3 linked regions of the Homo sapiens genome follow. The protein of the gene in region 3 interacts with the protein of the main gene of each other region in a pairwise test. Each region holds a gene or a part of one and is shown on either strand. Other genes may lie near its edges. The genes, in order: C1GALT1, VEZT and ANKS6.

Region 1 (3,659 bases), on a different chromosome or scaffold from region 3:
TCAGTAGGTCTGGGCCTAAGATTATGCATTTCTAACAGGCTCCCAGGTGATGCTGCTGCTTTTAATCAGTAAACTACAGTTTGAGACGAATTTAGATTATAATGTCAACTCTTACTAGCTCCAGTGATGTCCTAGATAACACTGACATGAAACCAATAAATCAGAGTGTCAGTTCACATTAGGATGAGTTTGCTTTCCTTTGGCTAAATCACTAATAGAGGGATAAATAGGGACTTTGAAATTAGGACAGTGCTTTCTTCAGTATAATTTATTAATATTTGGATTTTACATCTATGTAAATAACCTTTTAAAATGTTTTGTTTAATAGATGAGAACACAGACATTGCTGAAAACCTCTATCAGAAAGTTAGAATTCTTTGCTGGGTTATGACCGGCCCTCAAAACCTAGAGAAAAAGGCCAAACACGTCAAAGCTACTTGGGCCCAGCGTTGTAACAAAGTGTTGTTTATGAGTTCAGAAGAAAATAAAGACTTCCCTGCTGTGGGACTGAAAACCAAAGAAGGCAGAGATCAACTATACTGGAAAACAATTAAAGCTTTTCAGTATGTTCATGAACATTATTTAGAAGATGCTGATTGGTTTTTGAAAGCAGATGATGACACGTATGTCATACTAGACAATTTGAGGTGGCTTCTTTCAAAATACGACCCTGAAGAACCCATTTACTTTGGGAGAAGATTTAAGCCTTATGTAAAGCAGGGCTACATGAGTGGAGGAGCAGGATATGTACTAAGCAAAGAAGCCTTGAAAAGATTTGTTGATGCATTTAAAACAGACAAGTGTACACATAGTTCCTCCATTGAAGACTTAGCACTGGGGAGATGCATGGAAATTATGAATGTAGAAGCAGGAGATTCCAGAGATACCATTGGAAAAGAAACTTTTCATCCCTTTGTGCCAGAACACCATTTAATTAAAGGTTATCTACCTAGAACGTTTTGGTACTGGAATTACAACTATTATCCTCCTGTAGAGGTAAGTTTAGAAATTTTATTACTATGTCAATACTTGGACTGACTGAATTTTGTTGATAAAAACATGTTAATATGTGTATGTTTCTTTAGTACCAACAACAAGGACTCTTCCTTAGTCTTTTTAAATAGAGTGGCAGTATAACAAAATAGATGAGAACAGGGACATCAGCAATCAGCAGTAGTCACTTAGCAAATAGCTATTGATGCTGTTATATGCCAGGCACTGAGAATGTAGAAGTAAATCACAGCCAATTTCCAGTTCTCGTGAACCTTACATTCTGGATGAGGAGATATACAGTAAACAGGCAGACTTGTAAATATAAAATAGGATTTTAGTAGTAAGTGCCCTGAAGAAAAATAAGCCAAGTAAGGGGATGGAGAGTGACCCAGAGTGGGATGGAGTCCTCTGGTTTGGGTGATTAAGAAGGCCTCTCAAAGAGGTGACTTTTGAGCAGAACCCTGAGTGTTATTAGAGAGCAAGTTGGGTGAAGATCTGGGTAAAGAGCCTTCTAGTCATCAGGAGGATTTAATGGAGGTTCAGAAAGACCTAGAGTCAAATCCTGCTCTCTCACTTAATAGCCGAACAACCTTGGATGGACAGGAGCCTTGGATGACATCTGAGCTTCAGTTTCCTCATTTGTAAGATGGACATAATGTACCTGTCTTATTTAGTTGTTGTAATTACAACATAGTACAGCCCTTCACACAGTAAGCATTTAATAAGCCTTGGCTCACATTCCTGAGAATTTTATCTAAAGTGCATTATTTTAGGAAGTATTCCAGTAGTACAAATATTTCAGAATATACATTGTACTTATCCCCTGTCTTTACCAAATATTAATCTTTTTGCCACATTTGTTTCAGTTATTTAAAGAAGAAAATGCTATAGTATTGTTTTTCAGATTTTTAAATAAATATCTTTCTACAACTTGCCCTTTTCACACAACATTGAGATTTATCAATGTTAATTACATGTCTGCTGTGTTCACTATTATAAGCATTGCTTCAGTGAATAACTGAATGAGACCAGGAATCATGGAACCTAGCTTTTAGGCTCAGTTCTGTTACTAATAATGCCTTTAGGCAAGTCACTAGTTCTCTATGCCTTCTTTTCTGTGGACCTAACGTATAAATAATACACTTCATGCTACTACTGTCATCTTCATAAGGCAATGCTTTCAAATCATCATCTGGAACAGTGATTCTCAACCCAGGGCAATTTTGCCCCCAGAGGACATTTGGCAAGGTCTGGAGACATTTTTGGTTGTTACAGCTAGGAGGCTGCTACTGGCATCTAATGGGTAGAAACCCACTACATTATAAACCTACTAAATGCTAAACATCCTAAAATGCACAGGACAGCCTCCTACAACAAAGAATTACTCTAGCCCAAAATGTCAGTAGTACCATGGTTCAGAGACCCTGGCCTAGAACATCTGACCCAAGCTTTAGGTAATCAGCTTTAAAAGGAAACTTTTGATAGTCTGTTTTTCTATTTTAGTGAGAGTACTACTTTGGATGCTTTTTTGATGTAAACTTTTCTTAATATATTTTGACCATTCCAAGATGACTTGATCTTTTTTCCTTAATTCTGTATCCTTTTCCCATATAAAAAATTTACCCAAATTCAAGAATATAAACATGTAGCAAATACATCCAAATGCATATAAGATCTTACTAAGAGTATCTGATGTTGGATACACATACAGTAGTAGCAAAGGGACATCATAATTGGCAAATTTGTTCTTTCTCTAGAAATTTATCAAATTATGTTGAAGACCATAAAACAGAATTAGAATTCAGAGTACCAAAATTGACCCATCAATCTGACATTGCCTGTTCTCCCTCAGGAGATTCTTACATAAACCCAACGTGAAACTAAAATTCTATTATTATCCATCTATCATTTAGTAAGTTTTCTTCCCCCTAAATGAGTTTAAATCTTATACATACTTTTTTTTTCTATATACTAATTACTGAAAATACAGAAAATTTTTATCTAGCAAGTCAGGGTAAAAGATATTCTAATTCATGAAAGAGTTACATTCCTAAATTTCTTGTTCAGAACTGACTCTTAAGCAGTTCCCTTCCCACTCCACCTTCTTAGTAATAGACTTTTCACCAGAGAAGTTGCAGTGAGTCTTAATATGGTAGATTTAAAATATATGTGTAATTGTTTACATATATATCTCTCTACATGAAAAATTGACTTTTCTGTAGGTCAGAAATGGTCAAATATGATCTACTTTATTCAGTTTTATTTACATTATTCTATCTGAAACATATTAGTACATAAGTGAGGTAGAGAGCTCCTGATTTTTTTAAATTGTTAACTAATTATTCTACTACCATTTTTTAACTCATTACTGATTTAAAATGTCCCCCTTATCATACACTGTAACCTTACTTATAGTAGGATCTAAATCTGGGATTTCATTTCTATGCCATTGTTCTCATTTGATTTTGGCCCAGCACCATATTGTTTTGAACCTTGTAGCTTTACAGCAGTTTTAAGTTACTATTCTAAGGGCAAATTAACTCTTCTTTTTTTCTAAGTGTTTTGGCAACTCATTTCTTTATCTTTGCATACAAACTCATTAATTTAGGGACAATAACATCTTTGCCCAGGATTTTTTGTAAGTCACCTTTTAGGTCCTTTGGTCA
Region 2 (2,905 bases), on a different chromosome or scaffold from region 3:
CTAAACTCTTTTTCCTGTTTTCAAGTCTCTTCATCATAAGAATTCATCTATCCAATTATATTTTCTACTGTTTTTACTATAGATATCTTCTTATGTTTATCGAATTAAACTACAGTTCACAAATGTGTTATTTTTATTCATGAAAAAAATTCATGCTGGCCAAGCACAGTGGCTCACGCCTCTAATTCCAACACTTTGGGAGGCCAAGGCAGGTGGATCACTTGAGGTCAGGAGTTCAAGACCAGCCTGGCCAACATGGCGAAACCCCCTCTCTACTAAAAATACAAAAATTAGCCAGGTGTGATGGCGCACACCTATAATCCCAGCTGCTCTGGAGGCTGAGGCAGGAGAATCGCTTGAACCTGGGAGGTGGAGGTTGCAGTGAGCCGACATCGCACCACTGCACTCCAGCCTGGGTGACAGAGTGAGACTCTCTCTCAAAAAATAATAATAATAATAATAATAATAATAATTCATGCTTACCCCTTTACCAAGAATTCTGCCTTCTCCACCAAGCTGTCCTCTCTACTAGTCTCTCCTTCTCCATGAATCCTTCTCTGAGTGCTCCAGCTCTGCCGCCTCTCCTAACACTACAGACCCTCACACTAGAGGAACATTGTGATAAAATATAAAGGAAGTCTTGAACCCCAAAGCATATAGCAGAGAAGGGAAATGATTAACAGATTGATTTCCTGCAATCTGTTCATTCATATACTGGGCCTACATACATCAGAGATTAATTTTAGGCACTGTTGTTTTCTATATGTTCAGGGTTTTGTTTTGTTTTGTTTTGTTTGTCTCTGTAACAAAATTACAGTCTTCTTAAATAGGGGCCTTATTATCCCACAGCATTCATTCAGCAAATTACTCATTCAACAAGTAGTTATTAGGTACTTGTTATATGTCAGGCACTGTTTACTGCTGTATCCCTAGCGCAAAGATCAAGAGACAAAATGTAAAGCCTCCTACCTGCCTCAAGGCTTAAATTCTAACACACTCGTCAATTGATCCTCTCATTACTCAGATTATATCCACCCCATTTAATTAGTAATAATTGTGAACTATCAACCAACTTCTAATATATGTTGCTTCCTTTAAGAGCTAACAGATTTATAAACTAAGAATGTACATATATTGAAAATAGCATTGTATATAAACTTATATCCTTTTTTATTGTTTAGTGTTTCTTCATATAGCTTTAAAATTATGCTATTGACATTATGGGAAAGATTTATCAATGAGAGAAATGTGTCTCTTTTTCAGGTATGTGCTTTTGATATAGTTTACATTGGAAAGGGTCATAATGCTGTTTTAGTTTGTGAAAATAAGTAAAAAGCTGCTGATACCATAGAATGCTTTTCCCATGAAAAATTTCAGTACATCTTCCAGAGCTGTTTTCATCTCTGCCTACAGGGGTAAAGTCCGCATGGAATTAGAGGGGGAAAGTCTGCACTGGAACCTGCTGTGGCCATTTTTTTTCTGTTGTTGCTGCTTCTCTAGTGGAGTTACTGCAGCTTAGGGATGGTTCCTGGAAGTGGACACATTTTACAAAAACGTTTTTTAAATACACGCCAGCTCTTCGAGAAGCACTTTTTTCCTTCCGTCATGCTTCATACTATATTGTATTGTACTAACCCCTCATGCTGGGATGAGCGACTGCCTAGCAAGCAACCCACTGCCTACTAACATCAAGAGGGGCTAAATAAAACTGCATTTTCCTTGCAAGGACAACTTCTACCGTATGAATATATATTATATTTATGTATTATATTTTGTACAATAGTTGATCTTGAATGCAGACTTCATTTGTATTTTTCGTGGTACTACAAAATGTGTAGAAGTTATGGCTTTTCTTTCATTAGGGTCTTGTTAGGTGGTTGGCAAGTAAGTTAAATTGTATGTTGCATTTTTTTCCATGCTGTTTTAACTTGTAAATATATATGTATACATATGGAAGATATTATTATTATCTAGATTACTTTAAGCCTTTTATCTGATGTATTATCAGTGAAAACCATGCTGCTTATTCCCTAATACAATGGTTCTCAAACTTTAGTGTGTATCAGAATCAAGATGAGGGCTTGTAAAATATAGCTGGTCCCTACTCCCAGAGTTTCCATTTCAGGAGGTCTGGGATCAGGCCCAAGAATTTGCATTTTTAACAAATTCCTAGGTGATAACTGATAATGTTGGTTCAGGGAACACACTTTCAGAACCACTGCTTTAATATTTTAAATAAGATAATATGTGAGGTGTCATAAAAACCTTCATCAAATCCCTATCTCATTTCATTTCTTAGGCATTTTCTCTCTTATAAAGTTTCCTGGATTTATAAATTTTCATTGATTTTACTAGAAAGTTTTATTTAGCTTTTATTTATTTATTGTTCTTTTTAAGAAAAAAACTGAGAGTTTGAATTAAAAGTTTAAATCATTGCTAGGTCCTTAGTTATTTTTTTTCTTTTTTCTTTTTTTTTATTTGAAGCCGTGTTGAAATCCTTGTCTCCTGTAGACCCAGTGGAACCCATAAGTAATTCAGAACCATCAATGAATTCAGATATGGGAAAAGTCAGTAAAAATGATACTGAAGAGGAAAGTAATAAATCCGCCACAACAGACAATGAAATAAGTAGGACTGAGTATTTATGTGAAAACTCTCTAGAAGGTAAAAATAAAGATAATTCTTCAAATGAAGTCTTCCCCCAAGGAGCAGAAGAAAGAATGTGTTACCAATGTGAGAGTGAAGATGAACCACAAGCAGATGGAAGTGGTCTGACCACTGCCCCTCCAACTCCCAGGGACTCATTACAGCCCTCCATTAAGCAGAGGCTGGCACGGCTACAGCTGTCACCAGATTTTACCTTCACTGCTGGCCTTGCTGCAGAAGTGGCTGCTAGATCTCTCTC
Region 3 (3,659 bases):
GTGCTGGGATTACAGGCGTGAGCCACCACACCTGGCCAGAATCCCAGAATTCTTCATGGAAAGTACGGACACTGCCATGGGACACAGTATATCAATTTTGCCTGTGAAATACTATCAAGAAACTATTCTGCACCTGACTTTTAAAAAAAATATGTCATGTTCTTTCAAGTATTCAAGAACCAACTTTGCTGTGGGGTGGGGTCTTCTCATGCCAAGACCTTTTCACAGAAAAGAGTGTCACCTGGTCTTAGTGTTGGCTGCTAAGCAACCATCTGACACAAGTTAATCACTGACAGCAGAGCCTGGCCCCAAGAGGCAGGGGCAGCTGTGTCCTGACACCCAGTGACTCTGGGCAGGTCCCTTCCTCGCTTTGGGCTTCAGTTTTTTTCGTCTATATCCAAGCAGTCCCAGGGACCCTGCCCCAACCCAAGGAAAAGAAATCAGCTCCAACTCCACACCACAACCTCAGTGGGGAGTCAGAGGTGTCGCAATGACAGTTACAGCATCAAAAGTACCCTGTCCTGCTGCTAATGAAAGGCAGAGACCAGGGGACCTCCAAGGCCTTGGTGGGGGCTGGATTTCCGGGAACTGCACAGTAAGAGCTGGGGCTCCTATTATTTATTTCATAATCTGTCATTATCAATAGCACAGCCTGCACCCTACCTGGGGCTCTTCCCAGGGATCCCCCAGGGCCAACACACTCCCTCAGGTCCTGCATGTCTGCTGCAGTCCCACCTTCTCAAGGTTGCCCAACCACTCCATTTGACACAGCAGGATGAATTGTCCCAGCTTTGCCACACCCAACCTCTTTACACTGCCCTTTTTTTTTTTTTTTTAACCCTGTGGCACTTACCACCTATCCTACTATATATTTAATATGCTTATTTCCTACTGACTGCCTGTCTCCCCTTATCAAGGCCAAGGTCCTCAAGGTCAGGGATTTGGATCTCATTTGTTCACTGATGTATCCAAAGTGCCTAGAAAGGTGCCTGATACATAGCAGGCCTCAGTACGTCTTTGTAAAGTATCGGAATGAATGTATCATCAATCAAAACATAATAGTTTCCATTTATTGGATGTCGTCTATGTGCCAGGGCACTGCGATGAAAATTTTACAGGCCTGATCTTACTATTCCTCACAAAAATCTCCCAAGAAAAGAGCCTTTATTATGACTATCTTATGAAAAAAGACACTGTAGTCCTGCAGGGCCAATTAAGATGACCAAGACCACCCAGGTACAGAGTGGGAGAACTGAGCCTCAGACTAGTTCTGCTCAATGGGAACATGACCAGATCCTGCTGGAAGACCCGAGGTTCGCTCCTGTCAAATAACGCCGACAACACTATGGAGTAATCCACTTCCCATGTGCTCCCTCTGGGCCAGGCAGGATCTCACATGAACCCCACAGCAGCCCTGAGGCGGGTATCACTCCAGCACCCATTTGTGGAGAAGGAAATGGGAGCTTGGTGAACTGAGGCAGCTGGTTCAAGGTCCCTTGGCCAGCAGGGGCACAGCCAGCATCGAACCAAGTGGACAGTGACCTTGGCCACATCCACCAATGTGTCTGAGCCACTGCATCTTGGGGAAATGAGGGCATCGCCATCCCATGATGCCAGGACAACCCCTAAAATGAGGCCTGTCAGAAGCTAAGCCCGAGGGCACTCCGTGAAGATTCAAGATGCAGAGGCTAAGGAAACCTGGGATGGAGAACGCATGCACAACAGAAGAGGCACAGCTCGGCAGGCACGGGCAGGTGCAAGTTCTGGAGTGTTCACTTCTGAGCCTGAATTCCCTCCCCTGCAAAATGGGGGAATACCCTCCTCAGAGGGTCCCTGCGAGGGTGAGGGGAGATTCAGCATGGCAGGTGTGCTGGGCACGGCAGGGCCTGGGAAGGGCAGATCCTTTCCCCATCCCTGCCACAAACAACCCAAACCTTTAAAGGAGAGCAATGGCCTTGTGTCAAAAACAAAAACAAAACAAAACCCTGTCCTAGGAGACTGGGGCCCTAATTTCTAATAGCAAGCCTTTATGAGTCCCTAACACTCTACTGGGCTGAGTATCTCACACGCCAGAGGATAACCTGCCTTCTGCTCACCACCACCCCGTAGTAGTTGTCATTGTGTCCATTTCACAGATGAGGCAAAGGCTCAGAAGAGTCATGTGTTAAACCAGCTTCTAGAGCCCATGCAGGAGCTGCAGGTGGGAGAATCACCTCTAGGTGCTCTTCCCATGGAATCCTCACCTCCTGAGTGTCACTCACTCAGCTTCCAATGGGTGTGTGACCTTTGACCAGCTTTCTTCCCTCTCTGGGCCTCAGTTTCCCACCTGGACAAAGTAAGAGGTCTCTTGGCTTCAGGTAGTTCTTCCTAAACTTCTTTTTCCTTTTCATTTGAGCATCCTCTTCATTTTTGCCACCTCTCTGTCATTACAGGCTTTTAAAACATGTTTATTTCAGACTTGTTCTGATTGGATGGTGTATTTCTTTTTTTTTTTTTTTGGAGAGTGTATTTCTAATAAGCATTTACCAAATTTTCAGCATCTCTTGATTGATGGGGCTATTCTATATTCTTTCAATGGTAACAAACTTAACACTTTCAGGTCTTTTTAGCCAATGTGCCTGAAGCTACTTTCTTCAGTGCTTGACCTCTCAGAGCTAGATGTTTATATACACTGCAGCCCACCTACTGTTACTCCCTGGCTGTGAGTCCTGCCGTCGAAGTCAGGCCTTTTACATAGACAGAGGGTACCAAGGCTGTGTGTTGCGATCTTATTGCAAACCGTGCATTAAAGGTTTTGAAACGTGGTATGTCCTATGGCAGATTTGCTAAGGATTGTTTAGACAACTCTTTACATGCCAGAGAGATGGCAAGAAGTTAAAAAAAAAAAAAAAAAAAAGATGCACTGCTAGATGTTTTTTAAAAAACTAATTTTCATCAATTTTACATGAACTAGTGTTTGAGAAATGATCAGGGCAGAGGAGGTCAGGCACACTATTGTAGAACAAGGGCTGGCAAACTATAGCCCATGGCTCAAATATATCCCACTGCTTGTTTTTGTAGTTATAATTTATTGGAACCTAGCCATACCTGACTCATTTACATATTATATGCATAGCCACACCCATTCATTTACTCATTACATATGTAAGGCTGCTTTCACTCTAGCAGAAGTGACTACTGTAGTTTTAACAGAGACTGTATGGTCCATACAGTCTATTTGGCCTTTTACAGAAAAAGTTTGCCAAACCTTGTTGTAGAAGGGCCCCAGAACCACCTGCATCAGAATGATGTGCTTGGGGAGAGCAGCCTTGTTATAGAGGCTTCCAGGCTCTTGCCCAGGGCTACCAAATCACTCTGCAGAGAGTGGGCCCAGAACCTGCATGTCACAGGCAATCCCCCCGATACTTAAGCACACCACTTCCTCAGTCTCAGTGGTCTGCAGGGCTGGACTCTGAGTTCTGCGTGTCCTTCCAGTAGAGCAATCCTCAGCTTAAGCCACATAAACACAATTTGGGGTCCTCTGTGAAGCCACGGGGGGCATGCAGCCTGACCTGTTTTGGGCCTGACGGTGGTCAGCGGGTCCAGGTAGTCTACAAGGTCCCTGTGCTTGCAGTCCAGTGCAACCTCGAAGGCGGTCTTCTCCAGCACGCTGAGGTGGT

Evidence for each region.
Region 1: the proteins of ANKS6 (region 3) and C1GALT1 interact in a two-hybrid assay, tested with the Homo sapiens proteins (one large-scale study listed by BioGRID).
Region 2: the proteins of ANKS6 (region 3) and VEZT interact in a two-hybrid assay, tested with the Homo sapiens proteins (one large-scale study listed by BioGRID).

The regions. Positions count from the first base shown.
Region 1 is NC_000007.14:7,237,927-7,241,585, forward strand, and holds part of C1GALT1 (glycoprotein-N-acetylgalactosamine 3-beta-galactosyltransferase 1), read left to right. Parts: intron 1-328; coding exon 329-996; intron 997-3,659. UniProt on the Homo sapiens protein: Glycosyltransferase that generates the core 1 O-glycan Gal-beta1-3GalNAc-alpha1-Ser/Thr (T antigen), which is a precursor for many extended O-glycans in glycoproteins.
Region 2 is NC_000012.12:95,297,681-95,300,585, forward strand, and holds part of VEZT (vezatin), read left to right. Parts: intron 1-1,181; coding exon of another isoform or gene 1,182-1,216; exon of another isoform or gene 1,217-1,263; intron 1,264-1,413; coding exon of another isoform or gene 1,414-1,436; exon of another isoform or gene 1,437-2,484; coding exon 2,485-2,905. UniProt on the Homo sapiens protein: Plays a pivotal role in the establishment of adherens junctions and their maintenance in adult life.
Region 3 is NC_000009.12:98,786,553-98,790,211, forward strand, and holds part of ANKS6 (ankyrin repeat and SAM domain-containing protein 6), read right to left. Parts: coding exon 3,552-3,659; intron 1-3,551.